2 separate regions of the Homo sapiens genome follow, and region 2 is linked to region 1. Evidence: fine-mapped expression QTL. A gene starts in region 1. The other region holds a variant in brackets. All regions are shown on one strand. Distances are from middle to middle.

The links. PIP is the estimated chance that this variant, and not a neighbour inherited with it, causes the effect.
Region 2: its variant is fine-mapped to the expression of LINC01718 in testis (GTEx, PIP 0.97).

Annotation. Positions count from the first base shown.
Region 1 is chr20:61,072,913-61,088,924 of GRCh38, reverse strand. It overlaps LINC01718 (long intergenic non-protein coding RNA 1718), which reads right to left and starts at 9,861. Exons shown (of 2, transcript NR_109919.1): 1 at 9,595-9,861; 2 at 8,746-8,945.
Region 2 is chr20:61,096,382-61,112,393 of GRCh38, reverse strand. No RefSeq gene overlaps it. Among named protein-coding and RNA genes, the nearest start is that of LINC01718, 25 kb to the right of the region's middle. RefSeq lists an enhancer at 10,040-11,239. The variant G/A (reference allele first, on the strand shown) is at 9,364.

The DNA.
Region 1 (16,012 bases):
CATCTGCTGACCATTGGAAATGGGGTGTGAAGAATGAAAAGCCTCGGTGCTGTGTTTGGGAGCTCATTCTGCAGGAGGACCCATTTCTTCTTCTGCAGCTCCTTCACACACAGAGAGGGGTTTCCAGGAGACTGGAGCCCAAAAGAGAAGCAGGGAAGTGGAGTGGTGAGCTGGCGCAGGTGCTAAGAAAAACTGCTACAATTCAACATGTTCCCTGGGGATACAGACTGTGACCCTCGGATGCTGCCAACACTCAGGTGCAGATGTGGGCCTTCTGACAAAACTTCTCTGCAGCAGCCCAGGGGAGGAGGTGAGGTGGGCTCCCATTCTAAAGTTGGGCGTTGTTCTCCTTGGTGTCAGCTTCTCTGAGTGTTGTCACCATGGTCCCCTTGTAGAGCGCCTTGATTGAGATTAAAGTTTGTGTGCATTCATCATTTTATCCAGAGCCTGCTTCCCTCCTGCCACTTTCAATGAAATTTGCGAGTCATTCCAGGCACCTTCAGAGGAAGCAGGCTTCTGTCTCTCTGGCTGGCTCAGTGAGGAGCAGCTCAAAGAGAAGTTACTTAATAAGCTCTTTCCCGTGCATGGCTTCTGTGAGCACGTCTTGCTTTTCCCGGCTCCTGGTTCTGGCCTGCAACTTTCCTGACCCATCTCATTTTCATGCCCTTTGTGGGGAGTTCCAGCAGGAGGCTCAGATGGGATCAATTAGTTTCAGCAGGTAATTAGGCTTCTGGGCTTGGGCTCCAAGAGACAATTGGAAATTTTTATTTCAAGTCTATTTAAAGTCCTCCCGAGTCTGAATCAGATGGTAAGGTGTTTAGGAAACCCAATTACATCCCACTAGCATACGAAATGTTCACAATATAGTCAAGGAAGCATATTGCCTTTTACTTTAAAGATGAACCTCTTTCCCGTCTTTGCAATTTACTGTTTGCCTGGTTGCAAGAAACACAAGAAACAGATGTCTCCTGGTCCACCTGCCTCCTGTCGCAGATCGGCTGAAAGGTAAAATGGTCCAGGGACCATGGCTTCAGGCACTTGGCCTGTCTATCTCAACCATGGAATGAGGTCAGAGACAAAGACAATTACTTTAGAGAATATTCCCCACCCAGTGGTCATGTGAACGTGCTGAAAGGTGATCCTACGTGTTGAGAAGGAGAGACTTATCGGGATTCCTGGAACGTCACTGGCTAAGATGCTGCTTCCTGCAAAGACAATGCTATTTCCTTCTGAATTGTTCCATGGTGTCCAGGCTCTGCCTGGTCTTCCCTGGAGATCGGGCCCTATTAATTTTAGAGAAGGAGCTCTCCAGCGAGCTTGAATAATCGGGCATTTCCCCCACCCCCATATCTGTCTCCCAGACATTTCCACTCATTGCTCATTTTTATTTTTTGAGATAAGATTTCACCCTGTTGTCGAGGCTGGAGTCCAGTGGCACAATCATAATTCATTGTAACCTTGACCTTTCAGACTCAAGCAATCCTGCTGCCTCAGCTTCCCAAGTAGCTAGGATTTCAGGCATGCACCACCCTGCTCAGCTAATTTTTAAATTTTTTTGTTGAGACTGGATCTCAAACTCTTGGGCTCAAGTGATCTTCCTACATCAGCCCTGCAAAGTACTAGGATTGCAGATGTGAGCCACCATGCTCAGCCTGCCCATTGCTCTTAATTCTGGTCTCTTGAACACACGGACTAGGAAGGAACTCTTTACTGAAGTGAGAATGTTTGAAGTGTTGAAACGGATCTCAAGGACATTAGGAAGCCTTCTTGGTGCTGGTCAGATTACTTGAGGAGCTCCAAAATGTTCTGTTTACAGCTGTATCTTCAGCTTGGATGGGGCTGCCCGTAGCTGACAGGAGACTGGGTGATATGGTTTGGCTGTGTCCCCACCCAAATCTCATTTTGAATTGTAGCTCCCATAATTCCCACGTGTCATGGGAGGGACCTGGTGGGAAGTAACAGAATCATGGGGGTGGGTCTTTCTCATGCTGTTCTTATGATGCTGAGTGAGTCTCATGAGATCTCATGATTTGATAAAGGGGAGTCCCTCTGCACCAGCTCCCTTGCCTGCCACCATGTATGATGTGACTTTGCTCCTCATTCGCCTTCAGGTCTGATTGTGAGGCCTCTTCAGCCATGTGGAACTGTGTCAATTAAACCTCTTTCCTTTATAAATGACCCAGTCTCAGGTATGTCTTTATTAGCAGAGTGAGAACAGACAAATACACTGGGAAAATTAGAGAAAAGCAGCAGTTGGGACACACAAATTCAGGAAAGGAACTTCATCTGAATGAGCACAGCTCCATGGACATGGGGCTACGTTAGAGGATGCCATCTGTGTGCAAAGGGAGAAGATGAGCTGGGCAGTGCAGGTGCCTCCAAATCTGTTCACCCTGGTGAGAGAAGGATTTGGACAGTACCCTGATCTTGTTGCTAGCACCCACTTGTGTATTTGTAAATTAATAAGAGGATGGGGCCAGGCATGGTGGCTCACGCCTTTAATCTCAGCACTTTGCAAGGCTGAGGTGGGCAGATTGCTTGAGCCTAGGAGGTCACAACCAGCCTGGGCAACATGGTGAAACTCCACCTCTACAAAAAAATACAAAAATTAACCATGGGTGGTGGCATGCTTCTGTAGTTCCAGCTACTCAGGAGGCTGAAGTGGGAGAATTGCTTGAGCCCAAGAGGTTTTGGCTGCAGCGAGCCATGATTGCACCACTGCCCTCCAGCCTGGGCAACAGAGTGAGACCCTGCCTCAAAAACAAAACAAAACAAACACAGATGGATGAGCTGGTTCTCACACAGCAGTCAAGCAAGCATCCTGGGAATGGGATTGAGAAAATAATGTCCAAAAAGTCAAACTGAGTGGCCATTTCCACCTTGTGGTTCATGTTTGTAGAAGCTGGAGGGTTTAAGCATGGCATCACTGGTGAAGTCACAAGAATAATAAATCACAGGAACTGCCATCATACGGCAGGAAGAAAGCATTAAAGCTAGTGTAAAATCTGGGTGAAGTCCTGGCTATGTCATTCCCAGCTGGTCAGCACATGTTCTGCTTCTGAGCCACAGTTTTCTCATCTATAAAATGGGGAGGGTAGGAAGCACACCTACTTCAGAAAGTTGTGTGGGGTGTAAAAGAAAGGAGTTCTGCAGCTTGGTAAATGATAGAGCCCCATATGTATTTGAGGTAGGATTATGTTGTCTAATTTGTGTTTGGCCAAGATTCAAAGTCTCTTGAATTCTCACTGAGAAAAAGCACTCAGGTATGTGGTGAGAAAATTGAAGGACTTTCTTCACTTTCTAGGAAACAATCAAGATACCAGGTGGATCCATCAGGGCTCTGTGCAGGAAACAGAAACTACTTGAGGTGAAAGTGGCTGAATACAGGGAATCAGGTGCTCATGAAATTACCAGATGAAGGAGAAGTGGACTCTGGAGATGCAGAGATGTGCCACCTTGCAGAGTGAGTGTGCACTGCAGAATGACCTGCCAGGCAGCTGCCATCTCTTCCACCATCAGGAAAGTGAGGAATCAGGAGACTGCCATGGAACTATCGATCCCAACAATACATGAAAACGGACGTCTCTTGGTTGGGCAATGGGGCTCAGGAATCTGCTGCCACCATTGTAACTATGAGGACACCCAGACAGCATCATGCAGCTATGGAGGCTGTAATGTCATCTCCACACCTGCTCAGCTGGTGGCCTGACACAGGTGCTGGTGCTGGCAGAATCAGCCATGGGAAGCCAGGAGATGGCCTCATTTCTTCCATATCCCCCTGGGAAGTGTCTTTCTGCTTGACAGAACTCAATCTCATCTGTGGGTGAAGGTGTGTTTGTGACCTGTTACTGCCTAACAGATTACAGCAAACTTGGTACACATTTATCGTCTTACAATTTCTGTGGATCAGGGATCCAGGTGGGCTTGGCTGTGTCCCATGTCTCCTGTGGCTACCATCATGGTGCCTTAGTTGGGGCTGGGGTCTCATCTGAAAGCCCAACTGGGGAAAACTCTGCTTCCAAGCTCACTCGGGTTGTTGGTGAGCTCAGTTGCTCCAGGGGTGACAGAAGCCTCAGTTCCTTGCTGGCTGTTGTGCAGAGCCACCCTCCACTCCAGTTCCTTACCACAGGGACCTCTGCAATGTGAGGGCTTACATCCTGGAAGCTGAGATGGCCAGAGAGTCTGCTGGCAAGATGGAGGTTACAATCTCTTGTAAGCTAATCAAGGAAGTGACATCTTATCCCCTTAATTACACATGTCATCCCATCATCCTATTGGCTAGAACATGTCACTAGCTCACCTCACACTGACAGGGGTGCAGGATTCCACAGGGGCATGAATACCAGGGGGTGGGGATCACTGGGGACCACGTTTCTATCTGCTCACCACATAAGAGATTGTAGAAAATGTATTGTTTAAGTTTTCAGTCTTAGCAGTACAAGAAGAACTTGTGGAGGAGCTGGGAATTCATGGTAAATGCCAGTTGACCATATCCAGTGGAAAACAGGAAAATAAAACCCACAGGGCAACACGAGGAGCACTCTGGACATCATAAAGCAAGTGGGAATCCCTCTACGTAGGTCTGGTGACAGGCAGGGCTTTGCAGCTTAGAGGCTACTTTCTACAAATGCCACTGCCAGTGAGTGGTCTCTGGTGAAAAGACTGTAAAGCAGTAAATTGTCCATAGCAGAGCGGGAAGAAATCCTCTGCTAAGAAAGGCATGCACAATGATGCATCTGAACCCAGTCATCAACAGCCCAGAAGCGAGCACCAGACCCCAGCCTTTCAGACGCAGCACATGCACCATCCTGAGCTCAATGACCCAATCTGATAAATGGGATTAATGACGATCTCCACCTGCTGGGGTGTTGAAGCGTTAATAACTACTTTTCAATGTTAATTGTCTCTTTAATAATCAAGCAATTAGCACATTGCCTAGCATATTGCAAATGCTAAAAAATGTGGGCTATTCTTACTTTACAATCCAATGTCTTCCTTTCCCAGATGAAGAAGCTGTGGACCAGAGGAATAAGGTGACTCACAGCACATTAGTGGCCAAAATGTCTATGGCTACTTAGTGGAGGTGAGCCTTGCAGCCAGGTCTCTTACAACCAATCCTCTTTTCATCATACTCTAAGAGAGAAACTTCCAGTAAAATAGGCAAAGGTCCAGTGTTTTGGTTGAAATTGCTGTTTTTATAGTTTAAAATGGTTGAATGTTCACATGGTTTAGGGGAGAAGCTGGCATCTTGAGTCTTCCTGCCAGGCACTAGTTGAGTTAGCCATCTGGCCTGAGCACACTTGTAGAGTCTCTGGCCTCTTGGTCCAGTGGTCAAGGATACTCTCAAGGTCAGGTTCAATGCATCTGCCTCAGATGGCCTTACAGCTAACACAAATGACCCGAAGCTCAGGTTGAGAGCATTTGAATCAGCTGGCTTCGTATGATGAGTGCATTAGAGAAACCCACACATTCTTCCGATTCCTAATTAACATGAAGTTCATACTTGCACATCAGGGTTTGGCTTGTTGTCTCTACCTTGCTTGCTGGTGTTTCTCTGACAGATAAAAGCTGGTGTGAATTGGGTGCTTCATTAACTTGCCTGAAAGGGACAATATTCATAATCAACATGCTGTCAAAATCCGCTAAGTCCCACCAGCTGTGGTTTTGCTCTGATATGAACGGGACTGGGAGCTCATGGAGGACAACAGGGAGGGGGGCCAGAGGGTCCAGCCTGCTGCCGGGTTCCCACCTTATGCTTCAGAGTTGAAAATCCCAGGGCCGTTTGGGTGCTCTTCTGGAACTGGTAAGAAGCTGAGTCCATGTAAGGCCCCATGAGGCTCCCCAGCTGACAGATGAGAAGCCCCCTTCCCCAGCCACATCTTACTGGTTCCAGCTCATTGGTTATCCTGGAAGCTGTTACATGTGCAAGCAGCTGCAGGGAAAACAAGTTTGTGAAGCCACCTGCAGGCATGTATAGAAGGGGTGGGGGCAGGATTTTTACTTCCTCTTGCCGCAAGTTTTGCTGGGCCTTCTCCTGGGAACACTATGCAAGATCTCCCTGGAGAGATGACATCACATCATGAGGGTTAGAAAGGAGTTGGCTAAAATTCTGTGTTTAAATTGAAATAGGAGAGAAGGGTAGCCGTCAACCCTCGCTGCACATCAGATTGACCCAGAGAGAATTCAAGCAATAGCTCTACTCAGGAATCCTTCAAATAGCCCAGGATGTTTTGTTGCTCCAGGATGGGGGCTGTGTGTTTGTGCTTTTCAGAACAGCTCAGATGATTCTAGTGTGCAACCAAAGTCAAGAAACATTAATAGATGCAAATAAGTGTGTGCTGGAATTGTGATGCATTGCTCGTAGAACTCCCCATATGTACATTTAGACCATTCATTGTCTACAAACACTTGTTGTATTTCTTATCATGCTTAAAGCTGCAGATACAGTGAGGAGGACTGGCAAGCTCCTGGCCCTTTCATGGCATCCAGGCCAGTGCCTATTAGGGAACAAAGCAGAATTCAGCTAAGAGTAGCCAGCTTCTGCTAGGAGGACATCCAGAACGAGAGCTGGATGAATTTGGTCCATCACAGGTACACTCTATTTATGCCAGAACAGGGTGATCTCAGGGAGAGGCCTGCTGTGGGAGAGTGACCGTCGCTTCCCCCATCATTGGGCATGAGTGGTGGGCTGGACATCTGCCTTGTATGGGTTTGTTCGGAGCAATCCCATTTTACAGTGTGATGAGTGGGTGAGCTGGGAGGATAAAATGCTGATGAGTGGCTGCAGATAGGAACTCCTGGCTCATGTTTATTTTTAGACATTCAAGGTGGGCTTTGCTCATGCCCATATAGCATTTCCAGAACAGGTCACATGACGTGTCAGCAGTTCAGAGGCATGGCTTAGTCCTTCCTGGTCAACATGAGTTTGTTGGTATTCACATGATGACCTGTTTATGCTCAGGGTGGGGCACCAGAGCCAGGGATTCAGGGCAAACTGTCATGGTGGAGGCAGGTAACTTGAGGGAAGAGGGGACTGCTGTGGGTCCAAACATAGCTTCTCACATGCTTACTAAACTCTACTGTGTAAGGCATGTGTCCTTATCTATATAAATGAGAATAATGACACCTGACTGGTGGCATCACTGGGCAGATCAGAGTTGAGTCTGTAAAGTGTCAACTTTACAAGGCGCCATCCCTGACACATAACATGTGCTTAATGAATGGCAGCTGGGGTTAGGTTTGTATCAGCTACCTATTGCCTCTATAGTGCCACATAACAAATTACCCCAACACTGAATGGCTTGAAAGAACTACCATTCACTATTTTTCTTTGAGTTTTGGATTGGCTGGGCAGTTCTGCTGATCTGAGCCAGGCTCAGCTGCCTCTACTGGGGTGGCTCGCTGTGCTGCAATCAGCTGCATGCTGGTTGGGGGCTGCTGGTCCAGGGTGGCTCTGGAGGCCAGTCCGTTCTCCTCTAGATATCTTTTAGATTATTTTTCTGTCAAGCAACCCTGAGTATGTTCTCTCGGTGGTGGCAGAGGTCAAAGAGAGTGAATATCTTTTCAGAACTTGGCTTGGGTCACATTTGCTAACATCCATTGGCCAAAGAAAGCCCCCTGGCTGAGCGAGCCAAGAGTCCAGTGGGACAGGAATACAAGGAGGCCATTAATCAGGTAATCAATGCAACCACTTGACCACTGTGGTCATGGGAGAGAGGAAGACAGTCTACAAATCCGATGTGTCATTTTTCCTTCACCTGATCTGAGGTGCTACCTAATTTTGTGACAGTGGAGGTAAGACATTGCAAAGCTGAATGTAAGATGTCTATGCTTACATTCAGCTTTGCAAAGTAATGTATTTTGCTGAATGGCCAGAAGACTATGATGAGGGTTTGGAGAGGTAGAAATAAGAATCTAATATTGAATCCAGTAGGTTGCAATGATTAAAAAACAAAATTATAGGATATGCCTTAGAAACTGTGAAAATAGCCTCATTTTTAAAGACCTTTCAGAATGTGTCTGTTGAATGCATATTTTCTTTTGCAGTTTTCTCAACAGTAAACATCGAAATAATTGAGTGTTTGCTGTTCAGAGATGCCTCTTTGTGTGAACTAATAAGTGCCCTTCGGTGCTGCATTTTGGGGGAGAACTTAAATAAAAATGGTCAAGCATGATTAATTCTGCCCACTGCCAAGATGTTAATTGCTTCATTTTCTTTCATTTCAGAGTCAGAACAATGGGTCTTAATGGGCAACCTATCTCTCTCTAAGAATGACCAATCAGAGAACAAGGCCAGGCCTTGAAAGTGATGGTGATCTGCCATTCAAAATAACAGAACCTTGAGGAAAGGTGAAAGACAGGTCCTTCTCAGAGCTGGTCTGGACCCCTGAGCCTCCTGGGTCCCCCTCCTTCCATGATCTTCCCTCTCAGGGAGTTAGTAACTCAAAAGTCGTTTGGGGGAACAATGTCTTTGCTTTTGCTCATAAATCAGTCCCACTGGTCACTTGAGGGAATTGTCGCATTTTGCTGTGACACATTGCTGTCTTTGAGAGAATAATTGCCAGATTTGGCCAACTTGGGAACAGCTTCCTTCATCTTCATTTCCTATCTGGGGATGCCCTAAAGAGTATTTACTTTCGTTTAAAAGAGAGCAATTTCTTCTCATGAAATCAACAGTTTTCTCCATGAGCCAAGCTTGTTTTATGATATTAAACATTTAAATAAAATTATAAATGTACCATAAAATGCTGATGGATGATTAATTTATTTTTATTTTGCATGTTTTAAGGCTGTGGGGATTACTGCTCTGAAGCAGATCCAAATATAGTTCTTGAATTCTATGTAGAGCTGAAAGAATCAGTCCCCAGCAACGGTTGAGTGGGCAGTAAGAGATGGCGGCCCACTCTCTGTGCTGTTGCTGTCCCAAGGAGAAGAGAGGAAAGAAGCTGGAGGTGGAAGGGAAGTTTAGGAGCAATAATGGGGATGGATGGATGAAAGGGAATTATTTCCCCTGTACCCTCTTTCCCTCAGCCAATGAGCCTTCCAGGATGGGCCTATCCTGTCCCTGCACAGCTGCCCCGTCCTTCAGGGTCACCCTGACTTTCCATCCAGAGCACAGAACTTGAGCTGGGAGGCCCGCGTCTGAGCCATCACTCTACTCCTTTTAGCTCTGTGAACTGGAGCATCACAGGAAACTCCATAAGCCTCAGTTTTGCCATCTGTGAAATGGGTGAACAATCGCCAACCAAACCACTGGGATACCCAGAAGACCCAGATAATACCCTGACAACCCCTAAGGTGTCTGTGGACTTGATGAGCACAGCACCAGCCCACACTAACTTCCCTGTGCTGCCTTCACTGGCCTTATGAATACACTGAGTATTTCAATCCGGAATAAAAACATAATAGTCACACACCATCTTTCCTTTATCATGGTGAAAATTGAGGATTTACTCAGTTAAGTAACTTGTCAAAGGCTAAAGGAGGAATCCAAACCCAGGTGAGCATCAGTCCTCTGATCTGTTCTTCCCAAGCTGTTAATAGATTGAGGAACCCAGAATTAGATCACGAACCCGGCACCTATGAAGCACTCACCTGTTCTTTCAAATACCACCCCTCAGCGGCAGGAGGGTCAGGAGGGGGTGGGCAGGACAATTGAACTAAACTAAGCTACATTGAAGAGCAGGCCATTTTGCTCTGAGTGTGTGTGTGATGCTGATGGGGCTACATCAGGTTGAGATTTCGCTATGATTTCCTCCGGCTCCCGGTTCTCAGCTTGGGGGCCAATCAGGCAGCTCTTGTGTGCCTCTTAACACACGAGGCTGTGGAGTGGCGTCCAAAGAGGCGCCTGGCGCGTAAGTAGTGGGTGTGAGATGCAAATCTGGGCTCTTAAGTCATAATCCTGTTTGTGACATCGCCTCCGGTTGCTACAGTGATGATTATGTTATCAGAGGATTACCGTTTTCTGTGAAGAATGGGTAGAAAGACCAAACCAGCCTCCAAGAAACCAAAGGCCTCGTTCATAAACAATCACTCTGAAAAATTAAAACAAAGCATAGGCAGGAACACATTAGCTGACAAATGTGTGACACTGTGGATTCTTTTATTCCAAATAAAATGCTTTTCAGGTTTTTAAGTTCAAAGCTTGTTTTAGGGCAGAAAATAAGCCATCATAACAAAAGGACAAAAAGGGGAAATTTAATGAGAAATATGACAGAAGACAAGGAGAGCAGAGAAAACACAAAAGTTGAAATGTAGCAGATAACAGAACAGAAGGATATTAAATGACTTTTAATGAAAGGATCACCCTGAAAAAATACAACTCGTAGAGCAAAGTATTTTAATTATTTTATTACAGGAAGAAAGCAAATTAGCTGTCACCCATAAATAAACACAATCCCCATATTAGAGTGAATTTTGAGAAGAAAGTTTTCAATTGAGACTGACTGAATAGAAGGCCCATGTTTGTACATGTATTTACATGTAAGTTGAACATTCTTCATTGACAGACCAGGTTGTCAATTGATGTTTCAATCTAGCATCAGTTTAGTGTTAGGTATAAACAAAAGCCTTTAAAAAGTGAGAAGTACGTTTTTGGAGATCTTGATGCTTCCATTCAAAACATCTCCAATGAAAAACGCCTGTCCCATCTCAAATTCCAATTTCCTTTTAAATTGTAAAGAGCTAGCTTGAATACTGGTTTCAGTTAGCATGGGGCCATCTATTTTGGATTTTATGTTGTACATTCTTTCTGAATCAGAGAATAATCTGTTATTCTAAAGATATATTCCATATTTGTTAACCATCCAAGTTTAGACCCATCTGTATCAGTTAGCAGTGCTGTAATAATGCTGAGTAACAAATCTTTCCATAACCCAGAGGCTGAAAACAACAGACATTTCTCACTTATGAGCCAGTAAGAGAGTTGCATGGCACCACGGCTGGGCTAGGTTGGGCTCTGGACTCCCAGCTCCTGGCTCTAGGTTCCAGGCTCCAGGTTGTGAATTGGGTTGAGTTCTGCTCCTTGAGCCTCCCATCATCCTTGAATTAGTGGCTACCCAGGGCATGGTTTTTTGTGGTAACAGTAGGAACACAACAGGCCATGAGGAAGCACCAGATGCCACCTAGGCTTGGCTCAGGATTGGCATGTTGTCTATGCTTATGTTCCATTGGCCTGAACAAGCTACTTATCCAAGCCCTACTTCAGTGAGATGAGGCAAGACTTCAGTGGGATGAGGGAAGTGGCCCGGGGAAGAAGGGAGGGAAGATTTTCTGTATTGTAACCCAGCACATGGTGCCATCTGACCAGAGGCTGCTCCATCCACTTTGGACCCTGAGGAGGAGGCATCTTACAGCAGCAAGAGCCTGGAATGGGAAGCAGTGGAATTTCAACTCTGTTCATCACTTCTCAGCCACGGGACATTGGGCAAGCCTCTGAGCCCCAGCACCTTCATCTGCAAGGCAGTTGCTGTGGGGTATGTGGGAGCACAGCCTTGGAAGCCTGGAAGACACGCATCTGAGTTCTGGTATTTGCCACCTGCTGGTTGTACATTCCTCGATGTTCAGTTTCCTTATCGTGAAATGGGGATAAGGCCACCTCTCTTCCTTGTTGGAAGTCCAGTGCAACTCCCTGTTGGGAGCGGGGGGAGATATGGCATAGGGACTATCAGATCAAATAAGCAAACAAAAGTGAAGTATGTAACACCTTGACTGGCATGCCATCAGTGTTTATACAATGTCCACAATTTTATTATTTATAAGTATATGGTGATCCCCAGAAAGATATGTGTGCTAATACCAAGAACTTGTAAATGTGACCTTATTTGGAAAAAGAGGTTTTGCAGAGGTGATTAAGTTAAGGATCTTGATATGAGATCATCCTGTATCCTCCAGGTGGACCCTAAATCCAATGACAAGTATCCTTAAATAGACAGGGCACGGTGGCTCACACCTTTAATCCCAGCATGTTGGAAGGCTAAGGCAGGAAGATTTCTTAAGCCCCAGAGCTTGAGGTTAGCTGGGGCAATATAGCGAGACCCCATCTTTAAAAGAAAAAAAATTAGCTGGGCATGGTGGCATGCGTCTGTAGTCCCAGCTGCTTGGGAGGCTGAGGTAGGAGGATCACCTGAGCCTGGGAGTTTGAGGCTGCAGTAAGCCATGACTGCATCTGGGAGTTTGAGGCTGCAATGAGCTGGACTGCACTCCAGCCTGGGTGACAGAGCAGAACTGTGTCTCAAAAAAATAAAAAAATAAAAGTAGACACACAGAGCAGAGACAGGGAAAGAAGAGGAAAAAACCATGTGAAGTGGAGGCAGAGATTGGAGTGATGTGTCCAAGCCAAGGAACACCAAGAGCCATCGGTGGTAGAAGAGGCCAGGAAGGGTCCTCCTGCAGAGCCTCTGTGGGGAGGATGGCCCTGCTGATACCTTGATTTCAGACTTCTAGCCTCCAGAATGCGGAGGGAATATACCTCCCCATTGTGGTCATTTGTTACGGAAGCTCCATGAGACTTCTACACACGGGTTGCTGTGCAGGGCATAGCCTCATGTGTGTGGCTGAATGTCCTGGTTGTGACTCCAGTTTGTACCTGGGGTTCGAGTTAGGCCCCTCAATCACAGCAGTTACAGAGTAGAGGAGGGTCTTATACCTTGAACCAGACTGCTCCGGCCACCCAGGAGAGCAGCCAGTCTATACAAGGAGCCAGAGCAGGCAGAGCTCGCTATGGGTGAGGAAGGCTGGATGGGGCTAGGCAGGGGGGCTGGGGAAAGGGCTCAATGGGGAGGTGATGAGTGAGCAGAGAACTGAATGAGGTGACAGGAATGTCGGGGTCAGAAAGCACTCCAGATATGGCAGGTGCTGGGCCCTGGGCAGACGTGTGAAAGAACCAGCAAAGAAGCTGTGGGCACAAAGCTTTGAACCTAGCAAATAAGAGAAACATCATGCACACCAGACACTGTGATGAGCAGGCTCAGCTTGAGTCAGGGAGAGTCACCTCCTGCACGATGTCCTGGAACCCACTCACGGAGCCAGAGGATGAGGGGGTCTGCTTTCCCGGGTGCCAGCCATCCTCCACGAGTTCTCCTTCTCCTCCCCTTCTCCTTCTTCCCCCTTCACCATGTGCGGTGTGACTTTTCAGATAAATGAAACAAAATTGCCCCTTTTAAAGATCTACTAAGAGCCTCCATCTCCTGGCTCTCTCAGCTTTTTTTCTTGCTACTTGAAAAAAGAAGGGGCCAGGTTGAGAGGAGCTGTGCAAATGAATATGAAGCCCACTTCCTTCCAGCTGTGGCTGAGAGATGGCTCTTCTCCCCCTCTCATTATTGAAGGCCGAATGGAGGCTCTTGGAGGCCTGTACCTTTCAGAGCTCATAAGCCTAGCAGCTGTGTGGAGAGGGAGCCAGGCCTTTCCAGGGTTGTGTCCTGTCCAGTCTGGGCAGTGTGAGGAGTGGTCCAAAGGATGCCTGGCCAGGGTCGCTGGGCCCTGATGGTAAGTCAAAATCAATGGCCCATGCAAGCAAGGGGTGGTGAGATGGCCTTTGTATCAGTCCATTTTCACACTGCTATAAAGACATACCCAAGACTGGGTCATTTATAAAGAAAAGACTAACAGTTCCACAGCATTGGGTTTGCCTCAGGAAACTTACGATCTTGTCGGAAGGGGAAGAGGCATGTCTTACAAGGCAGCAGGCAAGAGAAGTGTGTATGAGTGAAGGGGAAAGATCCCCTTATAAAACCATCAGATCTCTTGAAAACTCACTCACTGTCATGAGGACAGCATGGAGGAAGCTTCCCCCATGATCCAATCACCTCCCATTGGGTCCTTGACAGGTGAGGATTGTGGGGATTATAATTCAAGATGGAATTTGGGTGGGGACACAAAGCCTAACCATATCAGCCTTGCTTTGAGAAATCCAAGCTGACACCTTGCTGACCATCCACTCTGACAACTCAGGGCTGGGTCACTGTCTGAGGCTGGCCAGGACCACTGGACAAAAAGGATGTGGTTTGCATAACTGCATGTCTGTTCCTGCTGGTGGTTCCTAATGGCATCAAGAGCCATCAGTAGCATATGTATGTCATGTAAAATCACAAATGCAGAGCCCTCTTGACCAGGGTGCCTTCCCACTCGGACATCCCGTCAGTGTGAACCATCGCTTCACATTAAGATGTAGCCAGACATTAACAGACACAATATGTCACTAGAATCAGCTGTATCTGGCCACATCCAGAGTGGGTTTATGTGACAGCCAATGTTACTGGGGACTTCACAGTTTTAAAAGGAGATTGGAAAAGTGGCATTTGGAGGAGGAGTCTAACTGTGGTGATGGGAGATCTACAAGCCAAGTTATGTAGGGTCTGAGTAAAGAAACTGGTCATATGAAGACAGAAGAGAGGAGGCCAAGGGAAAGGACAATGGTTTAAAAATATTTGAAGGCTTCAGAACAAAAGAGGAGGGCACTTAGTAAGTTCCTGTGAAACAAATGAGCTGGATTTTTGTTTTGTTTTGTTTTGCTTTGGAAGAACGAAGTTTTAGGAAATGAGTTGCAGCCACATGGATACAGCCTTCCTTGACTAGAAGGCATCCCCTTCAATCTTGTCCAAAGAAGATGTGCTATTTTGGGAGAAGATTGAATAGAACTGAAAGACCAGACTCCTTGTGCAGCAAGTGAAAGAGAATCCATGGTCACTGGGTCGTCTACATAAATGTCCCCAAGTAGGGCTGCCTTCAGGCAAGGCTGGATCTAGAGGCTTGAACAACAGTCTTTGAAGACATTGTTGAGCTCCTGTTGACTCTCTCCCCCACCTTTTTCAACATCAGCTTCACCCGAAGCTTCTCCATTGTACCTGTGGCCAACTCAGGCTCTGGAGATGTGGTGTGTGGGCTCCAGACCTGGGTGGACAGGATCCCATCCTGGACACATGTTTTTGGTTAGAGGCCTGGGATCCACTGATTGGCTCCAGTCCATCATGGCCCATCCTGGGACTCAGTGTGTGGTCAGTTACAGCCACTCCATGTGGCTTAGCATGGCACCAGGATGTCTTCTCAAGCAGCATTGGCAGTGTGGCCAGAGGGTAGGGAGAAACTGCTGACCAGGAGACAGTCTGCCCCACTGCACCATCTGCCAGAGGTGACAGAGAGATGGTGGGTATAGGAGGTGGGGTCAGAGCAGGCGAGCTCTAATTTTCCTTCCAATGGTCACAATAACACAGTGACAAGGGCATTGCAAGAGTTTGGCATAATGTCCCTGTGCTGTAGGTTCTACTGTCATCGCTGGTTTGCGGATGAGACCACAGAGTCTCCGAGAAGTGTAGAAACTTGCCTAAGGCCACATAAGGAAAAGCAGGGGACTGCAAACTGAACTCGGATGGATCTGACTCACAAATGCTCACTCTTAGTCACCACCCTACACTGTTGGGGCACCAGGCTAACAGATGGAGAGGAACATGGGCCCTGTGTGGACAGAATGTTGCACCTCAAAGATGTCCATGTCCTAATCACTGGAACTTGTGGATTGAGTGTGCTGCCTCACGTGACAAAGGAGAATTCAGGCGGCAGATGGAATTAAGTTTGCTAAGCAGCTGACCTGGAAATTGAGGTTATACTCGGTTACCCAGGTGGGTCCACCGTGATCTCCATGGTTCTCATAGGCAGAAGGCAGAAGAGAGGCAGGGTCAGAGGGGGCCAGGGGGATGGAACTGTGGGAACAGCACTGAGAGGTGCAGTGCTGGCTTTGAAGGTGGAGGAAGGGGGCTCTGGAAGCTGCAGAAGGCGAGGAAATGGGTTCTCTCCTTGAGCTTCCAGAAAGAAGGCTGCCCTGAAGACACACTGATTTGGGCCCAGGGAGACCCATGTCTGACTTCTGACTTACAGAACTGTAAGATAATATATTTGTGTTGCCCTGCCTGCTAAATCCAGCAAATTTGTCACAGAGCTGCTACAGTCTCTGACCGTGGCCCCCATGAGTTCCCAGCACTACAGGAAAGACAGACAAGTGTGGCTGCCCCAGAGGACC
Region 2 (16,012 bases), 23 kb before region 1:
ACCAAAGAACCGATGAAGAGATGAATAGCGCAAGGTGTGGTGAAGGGGTGAGGGGCTTCCATTTCCTCTTCGGTACATGGCCCTCCAGGAACTTCCAAGTGGTGCGTTCAGCTTTCTGCAAGCTCATCTTAACTCTGTCCTTTGGGGCTTTTATGGAGGCTGCATTACTTAGGCATGACTGATTACATCACTAGTCATTGGTGATCAGCTTAATTTTTAGCCCCCTCCGCCCCAGAGGTGGGGGATAGGAGGTCAGCGTTGCAAGTCCCAACACTCTAATCCTGCCAGGGTCTTTCCTGTGACCAGCCCCACACCAGAAGCCCCTACCTAGGGGCCCCCAGCCACCCATCATCTCATCAGCACACAAAAAAACACTTATCTCTTTGGAGAACCCAAGGATTTCAGGAGTTGAATGCTGGGAAACAGGAGGAAGACGAAAGATATACTTTACAATATCACAATATCCTTTTATGTAAGTCTCTGGCCATATTTGTTGGGTAAATCCAGTGATGCTTCAGATGAGCAACACTGACTGCCCTCTGGCCTCAGGGACTGGGTGCTGGAAAGCATGGCCTGAACTCTGTGCTAGGCAGATGATACTGACCTTATAAGCAGGGTCTCGGTCCTGGCTAAAGGGCTGGGGCTGTGGCTTAGCCTATAAATGAGGATGCAGAGAGAAAGGATTTCTGAAGGGCTCAAGGCTGGCTCTGGTTTCAGACAATCTCAACAGAGTGAGTGTGTTGCTGGTTTCCAAATCAATAGTGGCTTCTTCAGAGATGTAAAAATTTGGGGAAACTTTTTAGGAATGGCACCATCAGTTTCTAAGTGAAAGGAAAAAAGTGATCCAAAATAAAACCTACATCATTCAAAATATTAGTGTTTTCTCCTCCAGCTTCCTGGTGTGCCCTGCTGATTAGACAGAGAGATTTCAGGACAGAGGACCAGGAAAGCCACAGTAGAATCCCTGACCATCCATTATGCACAGGATGCTCCAAGGGCCCCAGGCTCTGACTCCAGCACCAGGCAGGGGATGGGTGGAGGTGTCCTGGGCTGCCAGTCCTGCCCAAGGAAAACCAACCATTTAGGGTGGGATAAAATAAACAGTTGAGCCCGACTCTTTTGACCCCAAAGCTCAAGGGCAGAAGTGTTGCTCGATTTCCCGAGGTTGTGTTGCTCAGGACTTATCACCGATGAAACCAGCACTCCCTGAGGAGCGGCTGCCTGGCAGGAAGCACCTGACCACACAAAGGTGTGTCCCTCAGTTTGGGGTCCTTTGTTTGCAGGTGACTCAAGAAAAAGGGCAACTTTATGAAGAGGACCCAAGGCAATACTATGCAACCCAAGAAGAGGAGGAAGACTCGGGTGTCCCATGAGGGGATGCAGCTAAAACAGGTACTCCAGCAGAAACCCTGGGCCCCCTCTCTCTCTCCCACTTTCTGTGTGTATGGGACCAAAGTGGCTGCCTCGAAATTCTCTTCTTTCCCTGCCATCATATTGAGCGATTGGCAGGAGTTGACTCTTATGGCTCAATCACATGTTCTACCGAGGGACACACCGATTGGCTCAGCCTGAGTAGGGTGACCATCTGTGCTTTTTTCCTTGTGACCAGGGCCACAGATAAGCCAACCTCCACTTGGGGCAGGACAGATGGGTTTTCCGAGAAGGAGGTAGGGCCCAGGCTGGCTCTTTCTGCTCCTCCTTGGTCTCTGCAGACATTTAGACTCTAATGGTCTAGGGGGCACAGGCACAGGGGCAGTGCAGGAGGCTTGGACTTGGCTCGCTACTTGTGCATACGTTACCCCCTTTAAACATGACTGCAAGAGTGGCGAGGACAGGCAGTAAACATCCCTAGTTTCTCAAAACACGTACAATTTATCTGATGTGTCAGCAGCAGTCAAGGACCTTTTCAGTTTTTGCTCTGGGAGAGATGTTGCTGCTGTTCTTTGAATTGTGCCTGCAGATACCGTCCCTCCCCAGTGCCTTTTGCCCCCTTCTGTGGGTCTGGTGCCTCCTTCTCTGGTAAAGGCCGTTCGAACACGTCAGTATATATGGATGATGGTTACACAAAAGGCATCATTAACTGTGATTGAAAATCAAACTGCTATTTCATTAATAGGCCCATTATCAGGAAACACAGTGGCAATGGAATGCCTGCACACTGTTTCTATAGATACTTTTTTCCTTGGTGGCACTTCAAAACAAATAGCATTGCATTCCTGGCTCTGTGCGGTGGCATGTGTTCCTTGATAGACATAATTATCCAGGTATGCTAGGTGATCTTTATTTGAATGCTTTGAATTGATGAAAAATGCTATAATGCAGATTGTAGAGAGAAAAAAAAGAGAACTGTGTAATTCATATCCTACCAGGTATTATTATTCCTTAAAAAAACGAAAACCAACTCTTCCATTATCTGTTCCTGATTCACAGAGGTAGCCTGTTCGCTTGCGGAATGAGTTACATGGAGTTGCTCACACTCAGCTTCCCTGAAAACACTGCTGCCACAACCCCATGAAACGGGACCTGATACCCCTGGGAGTGGCCATGGGGAAGCTGGTGTCCGGCAAGGCTGACTTGTGAAACAAGGGACAAAAGGCCCAAAGACAAGAACTTGCCCTGACCCAGAGCTAGACTAATGTAAAATACTTACGGAATAAATGACTTCTTAATGCCCTCTTTTTCTAAGTCTGCAGAAAATAAGCCAAGTCAGGCCCAGAAATGGAGACGATGAAGTCTCTACAGCGATGGGGCAGCAAGGCCGGAGCAGCAGTGCTCACCCTGGGCGGGAACGCTCAGCCATGAAAAGTGTCCAGGAAAAGCAGGGAAGGAATCCTTCTCCGGATTGGGATTTTAACATTGAAGCCACAGCGTCCAGGAAGGAGCTGGTTCTTCGGCTCAGGCGTGCCCTTAACAGGGGTTCTAATGAGGGGTGGAGAGAATCCCTGTCAAGCTGCCCACGATGGTCATGGCTGTGACTCTACCCCTCAGATGGCTAAACGCATGGTGCCGGCTCCGCCACCGCGTGCCCATCAAAGAGACAAGAGGATGTTGCATGTCTTGAGATCATTCTAAGTGTACTTTGATACCCCAACTTTTAAAATAAAATATTGCCTCAACCCAAGAAAAGGAGGCCAGCAACCAGCTAATGTATTGGCCTCCCCGGGTAGAGATCTTGAACTTCTACTTCCAATGGCAGTTGAGTCCAGGAGGTCATGGGCTGTGGTGGTGAAGAGCCCTGTCTGTGTCAGTGGGAGAAAGATGCATGGAGCTTGCCCCCTGCCCTCGTGGCGGAGCCTTGTATCGAGGAAAGAATGTTGCAGCTAACATCAGGGACCCCAGCGAATGTGGGGATTAACCAAACACCAGGGCAATTTTTTAATGTCTAGGAAACCTGATAAAATCTTAACTTTCACCATGATGTGTTGGGACTGGTCCACATCACGCATGAGACCTGATGGTTTGCATCTCTTCCCTGCCTTGGTTCAGTAATGTCACGTAGACAGCTTGAAATTAGCCACGGTAGGGTAGGGCCATTTATAGCATGACAATTGGCAGATGCTATAAGTCAGGGCTTCCCCCATCCCAAACTGAAATCTGCTTGTTAAACGTTTACCAGTACATCATGGATGTTAGGGATACAGTGGGGTTTGAAACGAGGGTCTCTGGGCACCTTCTGCAGGTAGGCACCATGCTTGCTTCACACAAATTGTTACCTTTAATCCCAACATTAGCTTCTGTCCGAGAGACTCATGTTAACCATCGACCCAGCTTTTCGGATGAGGAAGCTCGAGGTTTAGAGGGTCTTTAGTGAGTTGTTCTCATTGTAGCCAGGGAGGAATCAGGGTTTAAACCCAGGTCTGGGGTCTCAATCGTGGGCATTTCTTCCAAGAGAGTAGGGGGAGAAAACAACACGGTTGTGGGGCTGCTTGCACCAGCTCCGGCGGGGCGCTTGGGGCTGGGATTGATATTGATCCGCACTGGGACATCTTCCTGGAGCCTCGGCCTCAGGGGGTTCCAAGAGGATGGGTGTGCCCTTTCTCCCCACCCTGCTCACAGTTGTGCCCAGAATGTCCCATAATTCAGAGACTAGAATGCAGCAGCCTGGTCTTATTGATGTTCTTCTAGACCAAGGGTCAGAGACCTTTTTTGGTAAAGGGTCAGATAGTAAATATTTCCCATTTTGAGGGCCATGCAGTCTTTGTTGCAACAATTCAACCGTGTTAGTGCAGTGTGAAAGGAGATATAAAGAGATGGTGTGCTGTGTTCCCACAAAACTTTATTTATAAAAGCACAGGGTGGCTGAATTTTCCCAGCAGGCCCTAGATTGCAAATCCGGCTTTAGACAATAACATAGGTAACCAACATTTAAAAGTATATGTTTCCTCTATGGAGCTTAATGAAGTTTCCATTTTGTTCATTTTGAATGAAAACAAGGGACCTTTAAACAATTTTCTCCTGAAACTTCTTCCCCCTCCCACCAAATAACCAAATCCGTGATGGAGAAAGAGGAATCTCCTCAAATTTATACAATCTATTGGGACCTCTTTTTTTTTGTTTGTTTTCTTTTGTTTTAGAAGGAGTCTAGCTCTGTTGCCCAGGCTGTAGTGCGGTGGCGCCATTTTGGCTTACTGCAACCTCTGCCTCCTAGGTTTAAGCGATTCTCCTGTCTCAGTCTCCCAAGTAGCTGGGATTACAGGTGCATGCCACACAAATGGCTAATTTTTGTACTTTCAGTAGAGATGGGGTTTCACCATGTTGGCCAGGCTAGTCTCAAACTCCTGACCTCAAGTGATCTGCCCACCTCAGCCTCCCAAAGTGCTGTGATTACAGGTGTGAGCCACCACGCCTGGCCAATTGGAACCTCTTAAAGCATTCATTCCACAAATACCTACTGAACGCTCAGCGTGTGCAAGGCACTGAGGATGAATACCTAAGCCCAGGCTGAGATGGTTGAGGCCGAGGTGCAGTGGGTTGACTCTCACCACGTCTGAGTACGGAGTCTCCCCACACAGAGCAGTGAAGAAACCAGGGGCCACCGTTGCGTCCAGCAGCAGAGATCCCCAGCTGGGCACAGGTTTCTGTCCTCGGGACCCAGTTGTTCAGCTTTCCTCTTCAGCTCTCTGAGATACCCTGGTACCTCCAACCAAACTCTTTCCCTCCTTCTCTATCTGTGGGTGTCTGTGGTTGGCATTACAAGCAGGGGATCCCGTCCACCACATGGGCCAGCATCACAGAGGTCTTGCTCTCATGCTAAGCACATTCTAATGGCGCTCACTCGGCTTGTTCACAGCCGTGGGTGACTATTACATTAGCATCATCAGGAGCAGGAGGCAATAGTGAAGACGGCCATTACAGACCCATACGCTCTGGCGGCCCTACACCACGTCACCGCCTTTTTACTATGTCTCCCAGTAAAAAACGAACATCGCAGTGTGGCTTTTGGGATAAATGTGCTGATGGCATCTCACAGGGTTGCTGATGGGCAAAGGGCCCCTTTTGTCTCCTACAGACCAGTTCAGGGTATCACTATGAAACGTGGAAATAAGTGCCAATTCCTGGCCCAGCCATTCAAGGGAGCATGTTGGAATCATTCTCTGGTAGATGCATCAGAAAGGAAGGAACATAGCAAGGTCTGGTTCGACTTGATTCACAGACCCACTGGTGGTTTGAACTTCTGCAGTGAAGGGTGGAGTTACAGAGAAACGAAGCCACATGATGTTCTGAATGAAGTTGCCAGGCCAGATGCGCTCCAGCTGTCATTTTACAAATGAGATTGGGGTCTGGGAAGTGAATGTGTCTGAGACCAAGCTGGCAGCTGCCCCTGAGAGCTGAGGATGTGCAGGAAGAGGGGGAGCAGCTCGGCTCCAGTGTCAGATGGCTCTGCTCAGGGAAGGGTGGAAGGGGGGACCTCAGCCTCCTCTCGTACCTTTGAGTGTCTTCTCCTCTTACAGAGCAGAGCAGGACTATAGGGAGAAGGGGAGAAGGCAGACACATGTGATTCTCCCAGAGGAGGTTCCAGGCTCTGTGGCCAAATCAGTGGCCTTGGTTGGCTGGTCTTATCCCTCATCTGCAAATTGCACCGAGACTCCATTGTTTAAAGTTCTAAGCTGGGTCTCCCAACCCTGTAAATGGCACTGCCCCGACTCTGACTGATCTTCCCTTCCAACCACCCACCTCTCTCCAGCCTTTCTGCCAGCTCAGGCATGCATTCCCTCTTGGAAACTGGGGAAATGGCCCCTCCTGCAGTGGGCAGAAGGAGATCTCCTCATGCCTTTGTTTTACACTCCTCCCTAGGGCTATAGCGAGTTATAGGACCTTCCCATTTTCTGGCCTGGTTTCACCCCTTCAGCAACATCTTCCCACCCCCTCTCACCTTTGCCCCAGTGAGATTAAACTCCTGTCAGGGCCCTGAAATCACTCTTCCTTAAATTCCCTCTGGGGCCCTGCAAATGGAGCATTCCTCCCTAGATCCTCCTGGGGGAAGAACTCTTCCCATCTTTCCAGGCTCCATGTGGCTATCTCATTTCCCTTCCCTTCACTAAGAAGCCTTCCTGGGGTGCCTGTGGCTCCCTTAGCTCCTCCTTCACCCTGGTGCCCGCCATGGGTGTGGGGGCTGTGCCTGCAGACTTCCCTCTGTCGGGGCTTCTGCATCTCTCTGCCCAGGGTTTTCTCTGGCTACACAGCCCTCTGCACAGCCCCCACCCTGCTCCGTGCCCAGAGGGTCAGAAACACCAGAGGATTAATGGTGACCAGGAGCAGCTGTCCATCAATCACTCTTGGGAGTGGGTGTTTAAATACCCCAGCTCTCTCTCCCCTCAGGCACACCAGCTCTGCATGCATGTCTGCAGTGGCTCCGGGAGTTGCCCCAGGGGCTCACTCTAGTACCCCACAGGTGTAGCTGGCTGAATAACATACGCTCCATTGTCTATCTTTCCTTCCCTATCTCACCCCTGCACTCCACTGCTGCAGTTTCCTGGGATTCCCTCCCAAATTAACAACTTGAAGCCTTGAATTCTGCTTCTGGGGGAGCTGGAATTAATCCAGGGACCTTTACCATGCTGTTGAAGTTCCCACTCCAAACCTCACTGGCAGGGCAAGCTCCATGAGGCCCCAGATGGGCATTGTTGGCTGTGTAGGATGCTATATCCCCAATCTGTAGCCTGCTGCCCAGCACAGGGCCAGGTTTCCACGAACATGTGTGGAGGCAGAGGGCATGATGCCAGTTCACTATGCAGCCACCCAGAAAATACAAGGACACTTGCTGGCTTCTGGGGGCCCACGAGTGCCTGATGGTTTGAATACTGGAGAAACAGTGGCCAATCATGCAAATGTGCTGTTTGTACTCTTTTCTTTTTTTTTCCAACTACGTATGATGTGCTAAGCCTTTCACGACTTACAAGCTGATGAGGGTGGGTGGGGGAAAGGTGAGTACTTGTCTTTAAAACACGTAGGTGACCTTTATCCTTCTCTTGTTAGAGAAATTCACAAGCTCCCTGACATTTGGGATCCCTGCTAGAAATATAGTCCTGCAGCCGGTTATTCCTCATGACTTTAATTAAATTGAGAATAGTATCTCACCTCCAAGATAAGCCCAAAAAGAAAAGAGACTATGAGATGTCCCTGCTTCTTTCTGCTTTAGATCTTTGTTGCAAGCATTTTTTTAAAGAAAAAAAATTAAGGTTATTTATTGACTGAAACCCTTAGCACAACTTTCTCCATTTATTAATAATTATTCTTATTACTATGGGAACGGTACCCAAACAAACTGAAATCAACCACAATTTTCTATTGTCAAAATTCACTCATAAGACTGGGCAGCTGAAGTGAATCCCCAGGAATGCTTGAAAAATTACATAATTATCTACAAAGTGCACTAATGGTGCTAAAGCAGATGGCTTCCACTGCACTTGCCATCCTTGACCTCGCAGTACAATAATTCCAAAGAGAGAGACCACAGCCATTTCCCGCTAATGGGTAGGGGTAACTGCTGTGAGGTGTGAGGTTATTTCTGGCAATTTCAGAGAATTAATTCTCTGAAATAGAAAAGAGTAATACCACGTAGAACGATGGCTTGACAGATAAAACTGCGGCAGAAAGATGGTATTTGAAGTCTGTCCAGCTCAGGGAAAATGGATACAGAACTGAGGGAAGAGGGCCCCAAACTCAGGTGTATTTGCTCCTCCTTTCTGTGCTTGGAAACTCAGCTGGGGGAATGGAGGAAAGAGACATCTACGGCTGAAGACTGTGATCAGATGGAACCTGAAGAATGTTAGATAACGAACACAATTTCAGGGAGAAACAGGTTTAGCAGACCATAACCAGGAAGGGGACTTCCTAGATGCTTAAAAAAATGCAAATAAACAACAACCAGAACTTCCTTAATTAATAAGATTTTATTTAAAAACAGCTTCCACTTGCAGCTATATCTGCACCTCATGCCGAGCTGAGTAATTTCCATGGTCAACTGGGTGATTAAGTGTTGCAGCAACTGGAAGTTAAAGAGTTTTATTCCAGGTTGTCGATAGTAGCGATGAAGATCATAATGACACCATTGCCATAGCGCTGTGCAGTTTACAAAGCACTTTCGTGGTCCATGCACCGTTTGAGTCACAATTATCAGGGAAGGGAATCGTTTTAGAGGCTGAAGAAGCAGAATGATTTGCTGAAGGGTGATTCAGTCTTTAATCCATCATCATTGATCAAAGTTTGATTTTCTATTAACAATTAAAAGGTTTCCTTTTATATCACAAAGTGTTTTTACTAATGTCATAGGCAAACTTTGAATACTTTTCAAATTTGGGAGATCTTTTTTCAAGTTTTCTTCATACAAATGAAATGATTTGGAAGGATTTTCCACAGACTGGCTCCTGCTGCCGTGTCTCCCCTCCACTCTCCATATTCTTCTGGAGTCTAGCACCAGAGTAGTCATTTATATCACACCAGAACTTCAGCTTTTGCCATATTGTGTAAATGTTGAGTGATTGATGTGGGGAAGGGGAGCAGAAACACTCCTGGAAGCCGCATCTACACTAGCCCGGCTGTCCTCACTGAACTGGAAGCTGAGTCTCAGTGCAAATGCAGAACACTCTTAACCAACACCACTCAAAATAGCTTATTTTTGCAATTTTTACAAAAGTGTTTGACCATATGAACATATTGCTAGGGTTCTTCCTAGGGCCTGGAGGAAGCCCATGCAGGTGAGAGGCCTCAAAGTTCATCTCTACCAGGTTCACAAAACCTCCACCTGCCTTGGGATGGTGAATGGCATTGGAAAGAACGGGAAAGGAAACGGCAGGGAGGCCCTTGCCTTAAACCACACCAAGGCATGTGGCTTCTTCTTGCGTATGGGTAAGATAAACACGG[G/A]AGAAAAGCAGGTGCACTATTCTTCCTTGTTTTTAAAATGGCAGCAATTCTTTGCTGAGCATAAAAAAACAGGTGTAATTCTCTCTTATACCAACAATGGACACATGGATACTAACGTGTTGGCTGCGAGGATTTGTGAGGAGAGGCCTGGAGCTGGGAGTCTAAAAGAAAATGACTGCATCAGGCACCAGAAATCTTTCTGGAGGTGATGAAAATGCTCTAATATTGGATTAGGTTGATGATTACACAGCTCTGTAACCATCAATGTTATTAAATTGATAACATTTTTAAGCTTTAATATTGAATCATATGCTTGAAATGGGTGAACTTTCTGGCATGTAAATTATACCCCAAAAAAGTTCTTAAAAATAATTAGAGGAGGTGGCCATCTGCCTTAACTCAGGGTGTCTCCAGGTGTGGCACAGGACGTAGAGGAGGTGGCTGTCCACCTTTACTCTGTGTGTCTCCAGGTGTGACACAGGAATTAGAGGATGTGGCCATCTGCCCTCACTCGGGGTCTCCCCAGGTGTGACACAGGAATTAGAGGATGTGGCCATCCGCCCTCACTCGGGGTCTCTCTAGGTGTGACACAGGAAGTAGAGGATGTGGCCTTCTGCCCTCACTCGGGGTCTCTCCATGTGTGACACAGGAATTAGAGGATGTGGCCGTCTGCCCTCACTCGGGGTCTCTCCAGGTGTGACACAGGAAATAGAGGATGTGGCCGTCTGCCCTCACTCGGGGTCTCTCCAGGTGTGACACAGGAAGTAGAGGAGGTGGCCGTCTGCCCTCACTCGGGGCCTCTCCAGGTGTGACACAGGAAGTAGAAGAGGTGGCCATCTGCCCTCACTTGGGGTCTCTGCAGGTGTGACACAGGAAGTAGAGGGGGTAGCTGTCTGCCCTCATCGGGGTCTCTCCGGATGTGGCACAGGACGTAGAGGACATGGCTGTCTGCCCTCACTTGGGGTCTCTCCAGGTGTGACACAGGAAGTAGAGGAGGTGGCCATCTGCCCTCACTCGGGGTCTCTCCAGGTGTGACACAGGAAGTAGAGGAGGTGGCCATCTGCCCTCACTCGGGGTCTCTCCAGGTATGACACAGGAATTAGAGGATGTGGCCATCCACCCTCACTCGGGGTCTCTCCAGGTGTGACATAGGAATTAGAGGATGTGGCCATATGCCCTCACTCGGGGTCTCTCCAGGCATGACACAGGAATTAGAGGATGTGGCCGTCTGCCCTCACTCGGGGTCTCTCCAGGTGTGACACAGGAAGTAGAGGAGGTGGCCGTCTGCCCTCACTCGGGGTCTCTCCAGGTGTGACACAGGAATTAGAGGATGTGGCCGTCTGCCCTCACTCGGGGTCTCTCCAGGTGTGACACAGGAAGTAGAGGACATGGCTGTCTGCCCTCACTCGGGATCTCTCCGGATGTGGCACAGGAAGTAGAGGACATGGCTGGCTGTCCTCACTCGGGGTCTCTCTAGGTGTGACACAGGAAGTAGAGGAGGTGGCAGTCTGCCCTCACTTGGGGTCTCTCCAGGTGTGACACAGGAATTAGAGGATGTGGCCATCTGCCCTCACTCGAGGTCTCTCCAGGTGTGACACAGGAAGTAGAAGATGTGGCCGTCTCTCCTCACTTGGAGTCTCTCCAGGTGTGACACAGGAAGTAGAGGAGGTGGCTGTCTGCCCTCTCTTGGGGTCTCTCCGGATGTGGCACAGGACGTAGAGGACATGGCTGTCTGCCCTCACTCAGGGTCTCCCCAGGTGTGACACAGGAAGTAGAGGATGTGGCCATCTGCCCTCACTCGGGGTCTCTCCAGGTGTGACACAGGAAGTAGAAGACGTGGCCATCCGCCCTCACTCGGGGTCTCTCCAGGTGTGACACAGGAAGTAGAGGAGGTGGCTGTCTGCCCTCTCTTGGGGTCTCTCCGGATGTGGCACAGGACGTAGAGGACATGGCTGTCTGCCCTCACTCAGGGTCTCCCCAGGTGTGACACAGGAAGTAGAGGATGTGGCCATCTGCCCTCACTCGGGGTCTCTCCAGGTGTGACACAGGAAGTAGAAGACGTGGCCATCCGCCCTCACTCGGGGTCTCTCCAGGTGTGACACAGGAAGAAGAGGAGGTAGCTCTCTGCCCTCACAGGGGTCTCTCCAGATGTGGCACAGGATGTAGAGGACATGGAGGTCTGCCTTCACTCGGGGTCTCTCCAGTCACAGGACTTGTCAGTGGGGTTTTGTTTTAAATACAGTGTTTGGGGCCTGCCTGCCCAGTAACCAGACTTCTGCTGTGGAGCCCGGGGATCTGTCTGGTGTCCTATTGTCTTGCACAATCTGTACATGTACCAACGTCTGAGAACCTGCTCTGCACCTGTGAATCACCCTCATGGCCACCAACCCACAGCCTCATGCTGAGTTCATCACCCCGATCACTCCACAGCTCCTCCTGCGGAACCTTTCCACGGGTGCAGGGAAGGGGGTGCCGCTGTGCCAGGCCCACCAGCACCTGCTGGACCCCTGAGTGAAGGCCTCTCCTGCTCCCCTGCAGCCCAGCCCTGTCTCTATGCGGCTTTCTCAAGATAACCTGTGCTCACCCCTGTTTTTCAGTAGTTCTAGAAAGCACTGTTCAATAACTGGATGCTGCTTTAGCAGTTTGGACAAGGAAGTTTGGAGCAATTTAAATGTTAAAAACAGGAATCCTTATATTTTGATTAGTATTACTGATTTCCAAAAGAGACGTTTTCCTTTCAAAATCCGAAAAGAAGAAGAGTGGAAAGCACCAGGGAGAAGCGTTTTGGGGCCATCCGTCCTTCCAGGACTTCCTTCCAGATACTGGAGGCTGTAAGACCCTGCTGAGCTGCTGAAGTCAGTTTCATTTGACTGCATGGTTTACAGTAAATAGCTTGGACAACTCGGAGAGGAAGTTAATTTATCCTCTTGCTGGAACATTTCATTAGATCAGGGGTCTCCTTTTCTTTCAGTCAGCCAAGAAATTGGAGCGAGCAAGGACAGGGAGGCGTCCGTGAAGGCCAGACGTGCCGGCTCCTTTGTGCCGGGAGTGATGGAAGGAGTCAGTTTGGGCAGCGCTCCAGACACGCCTTCGCTGCTCTGTGCAGCCTGTTTCTTCTTCCTTTTCTTTGCTGGCTGAAAATTCTGGATACTTAGTGGAATAAGTGAAATTTTGTGGGGCGTAAGACACAAGAGGGCAACGAGGTGGGATGAGGGGAGGCTGGGCTTGCTTTTGCCTGGGTGCCCGCCGCGACTGTGCTGCCTGCTTCTGATGAAGCTGCTACCTCTGAACGCAGCACCCCGAGGCAGTGCTGAGTTGGTGGGAGAGGCTCTGGCACCAAGCGAGGCCTTGGGTTCAAAAGGCCTGCCTCCAGGCACTAGCTGTGTGACTCCAGGCAGGCAGTTTCTTCCTCTGAGTCTGTGAAAATGGATTTAACTGCAAAATTCACAGACCCTTGATAAGGTTAAATGCAAAGGTGCCCACCAAGGGCTCTTATACCTGAGGACCAGGAGGCAGTGGCTGAGAAGACTAACCTGGGAACCACAGAGTCATGCCTATTCCTCTTGCAAAGGGCTTGACCTGGGTGGTGATTTAACCCCAGTGCAGCCAAACGTAAGGCAGGGAGGCTGATATCCACCCCTCCAGGCTGGGATCTCACGTCAGGGCACCCAGCCTGGGACCAGGGGTTGCATCAGAGGCTCCCCATCCTCACGTGGGATTCTCCTTCCTCCAGCCCCTGGCTGGAGTGCTCGGACTCTGTGGTCAGATAACCCTGGAGCTGAATTTCATCTCTGAGTGTTATCAGCAGCATGGTCTTTTTGGCGAGTTATTTCGACTCTCTGAGCCTCCTTTTTATCTTTTAACAAATATTTATTGAATACAAAATTTGTGCCAGACACTGGGTAGGTATGAGGATATTGATAATGAACAAAAAGAAGCATATTTTCAAGAGGGGGTGGTAGGCATTAAGCTCTGATAAATGGGAGGCTGCCACCCAGGGGCAAGACACGGATGAACCAGGGATGCTCACAGGGGCATGCTGAGTATGGTGCTGGCCCCACCACAGTGCCAAAATCATGGTTTGAGTCATTATTATTATTTGTGCTATTACTATGACTATTATCACCCATGCATTTTAGTCCTTCGTAGGCATGAACCCTTAATCAACATTATATATTGCTGCTATTAGTAATTATTTTCCAGCATTATACACACGTGGGAGCTGTCAGACAGGGGAGAGCCCAGTGTAGCCAGACCTGGGAGGGTAAAGCTACCGATAGAGACACTGCTCAGCCTTTCTTGCTGCCTCCTTTACCTTGGTTTAAACATGGTCTCCCCAGAAGTGGAGCCAGCATCTGATGTGCTTCAGGGTCCAGCATTGCCAGGAAATTTCTTAGAAATGCAAATTCTCAGACCTGGTAAATTAGAAACTGTAGGATGAGGCCAGCGCCTGTGTGTCAGGAAGCCCTCCTGATGACTTGGTTGCTGGCTAAGTTTGGGGTCAGTTGGTCCCCCAGGGAGGGGAAGACCAGGAAGCCAGACAAGCTGCACATCTGAGGTAGCACCTTCAGCTGCATAGAGAAGCATCCTGAAGCCTCTCCAGAAGTCCAGCAGATGTTGGTGTCATGCTTGTTCATCCTGCAGAATCATGAGCCAATCAAATCTCTTTTCTTTATAAATTACCTAGCTTCAGATATTTCCTTATAGCAATGAAAAAAAATTGTTGGACAGGGTGGATATGTTCTGGAGAGCTATTGTAAGCGCGGTGACTGTAGTCAATCATAATGAATCCTATACCTGGAAATTGCAAGACAGTTGATCTTAAATGTTCTCACCACAAAAAAAATGGTAAGTGGCTATGTTAATTAGCTTGATGTAATTGTTTTACAATGTATACATGTGTTAAAACATTATGCAATGTAGTATACTGTAAATATATATAATCTTCATTTAGCAATTATACCTTAATAGTGCTGGGGGTGAGGGGGGAAGAGAATTGTTTGGAGCCTGCAGGAGATGGAGGGAATGGAAAAAAAAGGAAAGAAAGAAGAAAGGTTTAACCTTCTTTCCATGTTCAACAAAGTGTACATAAATGGGGATGTCCCTCTGTTTCTCCAGGGTGAAGGCATTTCAGGATGTGAGAGGGAAGTCAGCCTTGCTAAGTGTTGGACAAGCACTGTGGGACCTCCCCAAGGAGAGAGAGATTTACCTCTTGCCTTTCCCATCCTTTCTTTCCTTTCTCTCCCTCCTTCCTTCCTTCCTCTCTTTCTTTCTCTCTCTTTCTTCTTCTTCTTTCTTTCTCTTTCTTTCTTTCTTTCTTTCTTTCTTTCTTTCTTTCTTTCTTTCTTTCTTTCTTCCTTCCTTCCTTCCTTCCCTCCCTCCCTCCTTCCTTCCTTTCTTTCTTTCTTTCTTTCTTTCTTTCTTTCTTTCTTTCTTTCTTTCTTTCTTCTTTCTTTCATCTCTCTTCTTTTCCTCTTTTTTTATTTTAAAAAACTTCGCTTGGTTGGGTTGTTATTTTGCTTTTTGCTGGGTAAAAGAACAGATGATATGGTTGGACGTTTGTCCCCTCCAAATCTCCTGTTGAAGTGGAGTCCCCTGTGTTGGAAGTGGGGCCTGATGGGAGGTGTTTGGATCATGGGGGTGGATCCCTCATGAATGGCTTAGCAGCATCCTCTTGGTGATGAGTGAGTTCTCACTCAGGTCTTGTAAGATCTGGTTGTTCAAAAGCTTGAGACTGCCCCCTTGTTTCCACTCTTGCCATGTAATACTCCAGCTCCTGCTTTGCCTTCTGCCATGATTGTAAGCTTCCTGAAGCCTCTCCAGAAGTCCAGCAAATGTTGGTGTCATGCTTGTTCAGCCTGCAGATTCATGAGCGAATCAAACCTCTTTTCTTTATAAATTACCAGCTTCAGATATTTATTTATATTAATGCAAAAGATGGCCTAACACAGAGGCTAGACCATTAAGTAAAGCAGCTGGTGGTAATGGACTTGCTCAATTTCCAGACTTGCATCTTTGTAAATTACCCTGGCACCAAACACAAGCATTAATATGTAAAACATACATCAGTGAAGATTATCTTACCATCTTCAACTATGCTGTCACTGGAGATAAGAACCAAAGCCATAGCTAGACAGATTGGCCCCAGGTGTCAAATGGATCTTTTCTAGTGAGGTAGGGGGTGGGGATGAAGGACAGAGAGATGCCAGAATCATCTGATGAACTTTCAAAGATCAGTAAACAAATAGAAAAACACTGATATTTAGGGAACTTTAAAGTAAACAACATGAAACATAATTTCCATAATCAGACCTGCAAAAAAAAAAAAAAAAAGAAAAAAGAAAGTCTGACATTACCAAGTGATGGCAAAGATGTGGGGGAGGCTGGACATCACACAAAGATCCTTTCAGTCAATTTCATTGCGGCTTCATTTATCAGAAACTTACAGAACAACTTCGTAGGGTTTTGGATGTATCTATAGAGTTTCATGTAGGGTGATATATACTATACAGGTCATTTTTCAAATTTGAAATTAATATAGAGATTTACTTTAATGATAAAACAAAAATGCAGCAGCAAAACAACATAACAGAGAAACTTAGAGAATTAAATATTATTTTCCTATGGTTAGTGTTTGCATGGTATGTCT